Linked DNA regions of Homo sapiens: region 1 is linked to region 2. Evidence: fine-mapped expression QTL. A gene starts in region 2. The other region holds a variant in brackets. All regions are shown on one strand. Distances are between the middles of the regions. Region 1 overlaps TMEM131 (transmembrane protein 131). Region 2 holds the start of ACTR1B (actin related protein 1B).

The links.
Region 1: its variant is fine-mapped to the expression of ACTR1B in whole blood (TOPMed, PIP above 0.99).

The regions. Positions count from the first base shown.
Region 1 is chr2:97,834,020-97,839,396 of GRCh38, reverse strand. It overlaps TMEM131 (transmembrane protein 131), which reads left to right. Exons shown (of 41, transcript NM_015348.2): 8 at 2,240-2,320; 9 at 4,472-4,622; 10 at 4,720-4,776. Among named protein-coding and RNA genes, the nearest start is that of ZAP70, 120 kb to the right of the region's middle. The variant T/A (reference allele first, on the strand shown) is at 2,593.
Region 2 is chr2:97,661,510-97,666,886 of GRCh38, reverse strand. ACTR1B (actin related protein 1B) reads left to right here and starts at 2,843. Exons shown (of 11, transcript NM_005735.4): 1 at 2,843-3,044; 2 at 4,941-5,005. The coding sequence starts at 2,997. It overlaps LOC124900516 (U4 spliceosomal RNA), which reads left to right and starts at 2,156; the gene lies at 2,156-2,296. It also overlaps a transcript of C2orf92 not described here and the pseudogene RNU4-8P. RefSeq lists enhancers at 2,325-2,664, 3,705-3,774, 3,740-4,381 and silencers at 2,745-3,204, 3,285-3,344.

The sequences.
Region 1 (5,377 bases), 170 kb before region 2:
CAGTAGGCGACTTTTTAATCTTCTGGGGGTTTTTTTGGTTGGTTGGTTGGTTGGTTGGTTGGTTGGTTGGTTGGTTGGTTGGTTTTCCAGACACCAGGCTGGAGTGCAGTGGTGCCATCTTGGCTTACTGCAGTCTTGACCTCCCAGGCTCAACCAATCCTTTTACCTCAGTCTCCTGAGTAGTTGGGACTACAGGTGCACGCCACCACACCTGGCTAATGTTTTTTATTTTTTTGTAGAGACAGACTCTCACTATGTTGCCTAGGCTGGCCTACAACTCCTGGGCTCAAGTGATCCCCGCTACCTTGGCCTCCCAAAGTGCCGGGATTACAGGCATGAGCCACTGAGTCTGGTCTAATCTTCTGTTTTCAAGCATTGTTATGCTTGTTTGCTTGATACTTGGAAGGATTGATGAAATAATGTGTGATGTTTTCTGGTTTTCCAGAAAAAGTTCTATAGTCATCCTATCATTTAAGGTGCTATTATTATTAACACAATAAGCACTATAGATGAGCACTGTAACAAATCAGCAGGCAAGTAATAATATACAAAGAAAATCTATAGCTTATCAGTCTTTGGTAAATGCATTACTTTTACAGCAGCAACTCCCCGGCCCCTGCCAAAAAAACAAACAAACAAAAAAAACCTTTAAGGGTCCAGGCGCAGTGGCTCATGCCTGTAATCCCAGCACTTTGGGAGGCCGAGATGGGTGGATGACGAGGTCAGGAGTTCAAGACCAGCCTGACCAACATGGTGAAACCCCATCTCTGCGAAAAATACAAAAATTAGCTGGGCGTGGAGGCATGTGCCTGTAATCCCAGCTACTCAGGAGGCTGAGGCAGGAGAATCACTTGAACCCAGGAGGCAGAGGTTGCAGTGAGCCGAGATCACACCATTGCACTCCAGCCTGAGCGACAGGGCGAGACTCCGTCTCAAAAAAAAAAAAAAAAAAAAAAAAAAAAAAAAAAAAGTTTAAGCTTAAGAATTGCCATTTTTCTTGCTTTATCCTTTTTTATTCACTCCTGGAGGACTTCTTGTGATGAAACAAGTGAACGTTTCCACCCATTCTCATACTTCACCCCAAATTTAATTGAATTAAATATATTTTTTCTTTTTAAGAATTAGGGTTAGCTTACCTTTAAAGGAAGGTCTCCTGCCTTGTGACCCATTTTGTGTATATATATTTACCCAAAAGAAAGGAAAGCAGATGACCACACCAAGACTTGTACTCAGTATCCACAGCAGCTTTCTCTTTAATGGCCAGACATTGGAAACAACTCAAATGTCCCATTAATGTGTGGATTGAAAAACTGCGGTATAGTCATCAAATAGAAGTGAACTATTAATGCATAAACAAAGTGGTAGACCTCAAAATAATTGCATTGAGCAAAAGAAGCCAGACACAAGAGTATATGTTGTATTATTCCATTTAGATAAAACTCTAGAAAATATGAGCTAGTCTGAGGTGATAGAGAGCAGATCAGTGGTTGCCTAGAAATAGGAAGGGACAGAGAAGGATGGATGGATTGCACAAGGCATGAGGAAGCTTTTGGGGATAATGGATATATTTAATATCTTAATTACAGTGATGGTTTTATGCCCAAACACATAGGTCAGGATTCATCAGGTTGTATACTTTAAATATGTATTATTTATTTTACATAAATAACTCAATAAAGCTGTTTAAAAAAAGTAAGCTTAGGCATAAGCCACAGAAATATTTTTGCTACCAGTAGAAACCACATATTTTCATGTTCCATTAGAGTTATTTTGTATATATCTCAAATATTTTTACTCTTCCCCATCTCACAATTATGGTAGTTATTTGATCCACTGCTGGCTCTTGTTATAAATGTATGGATAAAGAAGCACTTTGTGTTACTGTAAGAAATACAAAATTTATGTTTCCAAAACTTGGTAATTTTTGTAAGTGATTCCCTTTGGAAAAAAGAAAAATAAGTATCCTGTTACTTTCTAAAATCTGGTCTCTGGAACAACTATGGTACTTACACTGTTTCTAAGTTAAATTTTCAAAGTTACCTTATTTTAATTAAAAATACAACTATTGCTTACACATACAGAGCACTGAATTTAGTGATATTATACATATCCTACGTTTATATCTTTAAATGTTTTGTGATAAACAGTTAGGATGTCAGAATTATTTCTGTGTAATAGCAAGTCACCTGCTTTGAGAATATGACTTTGAACGTAGCCATCATGTGCTCTTTTGCCCCAGGTTGTAGAAATGTACTCTAGTGGAGGAGACCTTCACCTAGAACTCCCAACGGGTCAACAAGGAGGTACCAGAAAACTGTGGGTGAGTTGTAACCTAGTTTTCTCTTGTGTGTGCTCCCATGAAACCGATTATTCTTAAATTAGAAAATATTTAACTCCTTAATAGGCTTAACAAATATGGATGACTTCTCTTTAATCGTTGTCTTAATGTTAATTTATGTCAAGTATATATGAAAATTGGAGGAGGAAAGAATATAAGTAGTAATTTTTGGAAAGGGCAGTGAGTAAAATTGGTGGGAGTTCTACCCCACTACATGGAAAGAAAGTAACTTCAGCTATTCTTCCTCCGAATTA[T/A]ATGGGTAAAGTTGTCTCTGAGTCTGATAATTTATGATGTGCTTTACACATAAAAAAATGTAAATGATTAAAAAAATGTAGGAAGCATTCATTATGTTTTTGTTTTGTTTTTGAAGGTAAGTAATTGAATGTTCAGATTCACCATTGGTAAAGGAGATGGCATTTGCAGAGAGAACCTAGTCAAGTGCCTGCGATAACTTAGAAAAATTTTAATTCTTGAAGGTGATCTGTGTTCACCTTCAATATTGTTGAATATTTAACAATATTAACCAAATTAAAGAATATGTAAGAGAACCTTATTTATAAAGATTCTTGCCATTTGTGAGTTTTAAAAATGTTTACCATGCTTTAATTCAAGAGGGAGAAGGCAATTGTGGTCAATTCAGTTCCATATCCAGCTCACTCAGATCACTGCTCATCTGTAATGGAGGAACACAAATTTTACAACCAGGAGTAAGGTTTGAGGATCAGAGTTTCTTTATTAACTGCTGTTACACACACACAGCCTCTTGATTCTGTCTTCTGACCAGTCTTGACCACAGAAGAGATGTGGAGATTATGTTTTTAGAATGTTAATATGAACATCTAGAAACAAATTTATCAGCCAGTTATTTGGTTAATTCCCAGAATATAGAAACACAACCAGCAAAAAGAAATATGCAATGGACAGTTCATTTATATCCTTTCACAAAAATGTTTCACCTTGAAATTGTGGTGTTTGAGGGAAAAATCATCTATAAAACAATCCTTCAGAGGATTAAATTCAGACTATTATATCTGTATATATTATTCTAGACAGAACTAAGAACTTCCTGTGAAACATAATTGGTATCTAATAAATAAACCTAAGAGAATTCAGATTTTTAAATAGTCAAGAGTGATAATGATAACAGAGAATAGCATGTTTTTATAGTCCTAGTGGCTGCAAAAAAAGATATGGTAGTTCTTATTCCTACAAACCTAGACTGAGAAAAAAGCCAATGGGCTGTGACCTCACCTCCAGCCTATTTCGGTGTATAGGTGAAAACCCCAGAGACCAAGTCAACTCCCTAGAGCTGGGGAGTGGATGGTCCATCCCTCCAATCTTAGGAGGGTCCCAATCACCTGTTTTCTACTTTGGGACTAAAAAAGAGAGTAGGGATAAGTGAAGGCCACTAAGCTGTAGAACACAAGAATCTCCTAAAATATGCTGAAAGGTTTGTGCAGAGAAGAAATTCAGGCAGTCCCAGGGAGCCATATTGTTCTGAAACCAGGAAAGAGATTACTCCTCAAAATTTTTTTTCCAGTAAGTCTTCCTTTTAGTATATAAATGTTCTCTCATTACGGGACTGAAAATGTATGCTGTCTTACATGAATGCAGTTGGTAAACTGTGGATTTACTTGAGAAGCTTTGCATTGTTAAGTTTTCCATGAAAGAGCAGTGTAAGCCCTGCTGGTTATCATTTATGAAGGTTCTTGTGGACTTCTAGAAAAGTATTTACCTCTGATGGTGACATTTCTGTTGGTTAAATTTCAAGACTGAGTTATATACCCAAACACCACTAACTAGCATATTAAAAAATAACTGATTTTGTAGATTAGTTTTACCTTTTAATGGTGATTTTGTAACTGACAATTTGTTTTCAGATCATTTGACTTCTTTTGCTTTGCCTACCTTACATATCGTATTTCATCAATTCTAAACAGCACATTTTTCACATTTTAAAGTTCTCCAGAAATGGAGTGTGTGTTACATATTGGTTTAATTAGCAATGCATTTTTTTTATTAATAGGTATATAGAATACTCATCTTTCAGTCAGTGTCATCCAGTTCAATAAAAAATGGTGGTTTTGCTACATTACAAAAGCTGTGCTACATTATGGTCTGTTAACTTGTCAGGAAATTCCTCCTTATGAAACCAAGGGAGTGATGAGAGCCAGTTTTTCATCTAGAGAAGCAGATAATCACACAGCCTTCATAAGAATAAAGACTAATGCTTCAGACAGCACAGAGTTTATCATTCTTCCTGTTGAGGTTGAAGTTACAACAGGTTAGTGGAAAACTGATGAAATCGAAAGTTGTTTTGTTTTCAGTATAGCTTACTCTGGCAAAGTGAAAAATAATTGTTGACTTTTCTTTTTTCCAAGCTCCTGGAATTTATTCCTCAACTGAAATGTTAGATTTTGGTACACTAAGAACACAAGGTAAAAAAATCTTTTAAAAGAGTCTTTATGGAGTTTTTTTTTTTTTTAACCCCTGTATTCAGTGCTGAATGGCTCTACTATGTAATTCAGCTTTAAACATTATTTCTCAGTTGGTTGCATGATCTTGTACAAATCTCCTTTTCAGACTCAGCGCCTTTACAGGTTTATACCCCATTCCGCTGAGGGGTGGGTGGCATTGCTTAACAGGTTGGAAAACAAGGCCATGGGATAATTTAAGTCATCTAAATGGAAGATTGAGGCAGAAAATAGTTTTCTAGTTTCTTAATCCAGTTGCTCATCAGTTCAGTTACGCTGAATCTTGATTTTTACTTCTGGATTTTGTTTAGATATGAGTTATTAAATTACATTTTGACAAAATGTTGAAAGTTTGTTGCAGCTGTTCAGAAAACTCAAATTCTGAAATTAAAAACAACTAAGTAAAGATTTTTGCTAAGGAAAAACTAAGAGCACTTGTAATTTGGGATGTATATGGACTATATATAATAATATGTAGTTAAGATTGAAGACCATATGTTTAAAAATTAGATTTGCTGTTAGTATATTTTTACATTGTAAATTATTAATTTGCTTCATTATGTTT
Region 2 (5,377 bases):
ACACCATTTTAAAATCAACTGCTTTTTTTTTTTTTTTTTTTTTTGAGACAGAGTCTGGCTCTGTCACCCAGGCTGGAGTGCAATGGTGCGATCTGGGCTCACCGCAACCTCCATCTCCCGGGCTCAAGCCAACCTCCCACCTCAGCCTCTGGAGTAGCTGGCACTACAGGCGCACAACATCATGCCCGGCTAATTTTTGTATTTTTTGTAGAGACAGGGTTTTGCCATGTTGTCCAGGCTGGTCTCAAATTCCTGGGCTCAAGCAATCCACCCACTTCAGCCTCCACAAGTACTGGGATTACACGCATGAGCTACCGTGCCCATCTCAACCCCATCTTTTTTTTTTTTTTTTTTTTTGAGACGGAGTCTCACTCTGTCGCCCAGGCTGGTGGCGCGATCTCGGCTCACTGCAACCTCCGCCTCCTGGGTTCAAGCGATTCTCCTACCCCAGCCTCCTGAGTAGCTGGGACAACAGACGCATGCCACCACGCCCAGCTACTTTTTTGTATTTTTAGTAAAGACAGGGTTTCACCGTGTTAGCCAGGATGGTCTCAATCTCCTGACCTCGTGATCTGCCCGCCTCGGCCTTCCAAAGTGCTGGGATTACAGGCATAAGCCACCGCGCCCGGCCCCAACTCCATCTTAAAACTAGCAAGGCACATTCCTTGCTAGTCCCAACCCATGGTCATAAGATGCTATGGCTAAAAGAGCAGTTTAGTAATGCCTGCAAGGACAAAATCCTACAACAACAAAATGTCCAGATGCTCCAATATTGCCTAACAATATATGATTTAAGATAGTTATAGTTACAGGACTCGATGGCTCACACCTGTAATCCCAGCACTTTGGGAGTCCAAAGTGGGTGGACTGCTTGAGCTCAGGAGTTCGAGACCAGCCTGGGCAACATAGCAAAACCCGGTCTCTACTAAAAATACAAAAAAATTACCTGGGCGTGATGGTGCACACCTGTGGTCCCAGCTACTTGGAAGGCTGAGGCAGGAGGATAGCTTGAGCCTGGGAGGTGGAGGTTGCAGTGAGCTGATATCAGGCAACTGCACTCCAGCTTGGGCAACAAGGTGAGACCCTGTCTCAAAAAAACAAAACAAAACAAAATATATATATATATATATATATATATATATATATATAGAGAGAGAGAGAGAGAGAGAGAGAGAGAGAGAGAGAGAGAGAGAGTCATGCTTTGATGTATTTATGCATTAAAATGCCAAGGATAACTTTCTTTAAATCAAAAAGCACTAAATTTTGTTATGCTGTCAGCCCACCCTCATGTAGACATAGCTTAGTTTTTACATAGATAAGACCCCTCTATAAGAAGAGTTTAATATAAAGAGGGTGTGTTCCCCCTCTTGCTTTCTGAGGATGGCCTACTCTGTAACTGAGTAGCTTTCAATAAACAATCGCTTCTCACTGCACTCTGCAACTTGCCTTGAATTTCTTCTGGGCAAGATCCAATAACCCTCCCTTGGGGTCTGGATCGGGACCCCTTTTCCAGCAACAATATTGTTTCTTGAACTCGGTGGTTATGCAAGTGTGTCCACATTTTAATCATTCATTGAAATGTACATGTACACTTGTGATTTCTGCACACCCGCTTCAATTTTACAAATTTTATGCTCACAACCCATTGGGAGAGGTATATATACAGGGAAATAACTATGGATCCGTTTGGTAAACAAATGTAGAACTCAACTATCCTGCACTCTTGAAGCAGCTGACTCCAGTGCCGCAGGGGGCTACCTGCATGCCAATTCCACACCCAATAATCTTGGGCAGGTTACCAAAGTGTGAAGACCCTGACTGAAAAATGGGAGTAATAATACAACTACCTGATATTGTTGCAAGGATTTAATATAACTTATGTAAAGTGGGCAGAAGTGCTCCGCAGGCACAGAGCAGGTGCTCAATAAATGCCAGGACCAAAATACCACGAAACTGTAATTTTTATAAGGAAAAGGATCTTTTCTTCAGTGCTCAACGAGGAAATATTATGGGGCCGTGCGCAATAGCTGACGCCTGTAATCCCAACGCTTTGGAAAGACTAAGCGGGAGGATCGCTTAAGCTCAGGAGTTCGAGGCTAGCCCGGGGAACATAGCGAGATCCCTTCTCTACAAAAAAAATTTTTTTTAATTAGCTAGCGTTGCGCGGTGGCCGTATGGTGGCCAATGAGGTTTATCCGAAGCGCGATTATTGCTAATTGAAAACTTTTCGCAATACCCCACCGTGACGACTTGCAATATAGTCGACATCGGCAATTTTTAACAGTCTCTACGGAGACTATTTCAGTAAAAATAAATAAATATGGTGCGCGCCTGTAGTCCCCCCTACTGGCTGGCGCGGGAGGATCGCTTGAGCCCAAGATTTCCAGCCTGAGCGACAGAGCAAGACACCTTACCTAGAAAAAAAGAAAAAATAAATATTTTGGGTGAAATATCCAGGGCCGGCCTCCTTGGAGAGGGCGCTCTCACGAAGGAGCGTGGCCCGAGGTGCTGGGACGCGGGAAAGACGTCTTTCTGGACCGGTGCTGGGACGCGGGAAAGACGTCTTCCTGGACCGGTGAATTTCCAGCTCCACAGACTCCGGCCGCGCGCACACCAGCCCAGCTCCACTTTCTGCCGCCCGCGTCCCCTTTAAGACGGAGCCATGACATCATCCCAGACACTGCGCAGCCTACCTTGGCAACGCCGCGACCACTTTTTTCCGGACGACCTCAATTGGCTGGCCAGCCTCCGGAGGCCCCGCCCCCTTCGCGCAGCCAGCCCCGGGCACCTGCTGTCAATCGGGCCAGGTGGGAGCGATGATTGGCCGCCGGGCCCGCCCTCCAGAAAGCCCCGCGGGGCTCGCGTAGGCTGCAGGCTCGGGGAGGGAGGGCAGCGGCGCCGCGTCGGGAGCCGCCGCCGTCCCGGTCCTCCCGCCCGCCCGCCCATCCGGTGCCTCCTGCAGCCCGCCTGCTGGGCAGGGCCGGCGCGGCCCGGCCATGGAGTCCTACGACATCATCGCCAACCAGCCTGTGGTCATCGACAACGTGAGGCCCGGCAGCCAGGGGGAGGGCGGGCGCCCCGCCCCCGGGGGCGCACGCGGCGGCGCAGGGAGAGACCCCCGCCCGCCTCGGCGCGTCCTCCGCTCACTGCGTGGCCGTCGCCCCCGCCGGGCCGCTGGCTTCGCCCCGGGGGCGCGCGCCCTCTTGGCCTTGTAAGGCCGGCCATGGGGCGAGCCCCCTCGCCCGCGTCGCAGAGCCTCTTCCCCGACCCCTCCCCGAGTCGGGCGGGGAAGTTCAGGAGAGCTTGAGTGACAGCCGGGCGGCCGGGCGGGGACGCGCCCCGGACTCTTCTCAGTTGAGAGTGCGGTTCCTGGGCAGGTTTCCACACCAGTTCCTTTCCGCGTCCTTCGGCCCTGGCTCTGGCTGCCTGGCGGAGGTGGGGTAGCATTTGTCATTTGCACACTGCTGGCTTTATCTTTGGGGCTGCACCCCGAGGCAACAAATGCAGGATGCTCTGTCACCCACATGTCCACCACCATCTGGTTTGCCTTTTGGCTACTTTGACTTTCTCCTTAAATGCTTCCTGTGCTGAGCAAACATTCCACAGCCAGCAGAGCAATGGAGAGTTCATGGCCACTCTTCCCAGTATCAGCAAGCAATTTGGGGTGATCGTTTGGAAGCCTCAGAGGAAAGATGTCATCAGGCTTCCTGTGGCTTTGTCCTTCAGCAGTGGGGCTCGGCTTGCTTTCACCTGCCTTAGGAAGATTTCTGGCTTCCGAGCTCTGATATGGGGAGAAGATAAGGGCTGGGATCTTTGAGTCTGCCCCTAGCTGGGTATGTGCGTCCGGTGTGCGGGCCTTGGAGTTTTTGGTAATGACTCACTTGTGCTCTTTCTGGGATCTGTCTCCCTCCCACATGACCCCGTGGGGTCCCTGAATGACTGTTTTAGAGTACCCATGTGGGTTCCCTGAGTCACAGCAGGGGATGTTTAATAAGGAGGTTAGCACTGAGCTTGGGGACGTGCTGTCACACCAGCAGGACGCTGCAGGAAGGAGCAGGCTACTTCCTTTCTTGACGTGCAAATAACTCGTATAGGCTAATCAACAGGCTTATAAGTTAAAAGGGCTACCGCTCGGCCCCTTGGGGATTCCATCCCCTCCTCTGTAACTTGGAGATGTTTGTTTCTGCTGCAGACTCAGAGGGTTGCGATGAAGAGTGGTGGGACTGAGTTGAGAAGCTTATCCCTTCGCTGGGTGGGAGGTTTCTAATTGCCCCGTTCTTTGGGGGATCCTTAAGTCCAGCTTCCAGGTGGGGGCAGCGATAGGACCAAGTTCTCCTAGTAGTCTCTGGGAAGCCACTTGAGGGAAGCTGCCGGTCATCCCATGCACCCATTGGTCTTCTCCAGCAGGCCCTGTAGGTCGTCCATGTTCCATGCCTTCTGGGTTCTTGGGGGAGAAGGAAGCTGTTGAAAAAAAAAAAAAAAGACCCACACAGAGGGGTTTCTTCTAGCTTTTGGGAGTAGCATGTGCTATGGAATCCTGCTGGAGCCAACCATTAGTTGTGCAGAGGAAGGTGCCCTTCGTGGTTTCTCTATCTCTATATTATTGACATTCTGGGCTAGCTCCTTGTTGGTAGTGCAGGCTCGCCTGTGCATCGTAGGATGTTGAGCAGCATCCTTGGCCTCTGCCCACTAGATGCCAATAGCATCCCCCACTGCATGTCCCCTCTCCCCAGCTGCCAGACATTGCCAAATGTTGCCAGAGCAGGGGGATACAAAATTGCCCCCAATCTTGAACCATAGGTGTACTTGTAAATGATCCTGGCAGGGTCCCTGGCTTCCTCCTTGGCCTGCCTTGACGGGGCAGCCAGCTCTCTCCATTGCGGGGGACTGGCTTCATCTGGTGGTGCATGTGGGCAGCTCAACTTTGTTTTTCCTTGCAGGGTTCGGGGGTGATTAAAGCTGGCTTTGCAGGAGACCAGATTCCCAAATACTGTTTCCCAAACTAGTAAGTGTGGCTCAGGCAGCAGCCTTAGTCCTTTTGTTTACCTTCTGTAAGAACATTGGCCTTCTGTCACAGGGCTCTTTGAAGACAATTTGTGCCCTGACCTGTATGGAAAACACCAAATTTGTGAGGTTGACACTCTTGAGAGAGCACTGAAAGAACAAGACAAGCGTTCTAGGGTTCCCCTTTGTCTTGGGAGTCTCTCGTTTTGGTCTTGTTGAGCCAGCAAGGAGGAAAAGCAACCAGCATTTCCCTGGGGATGGGGTGTGGTAGCAGCAGCAAGAATAAAGGGAGACATCTCCGAGGGGAGCCCTAAACTCGGAGCAGGAAGAGTGAGGAATTAGATGCACAGCCACCCTTTCCTCCCTGGAAGTG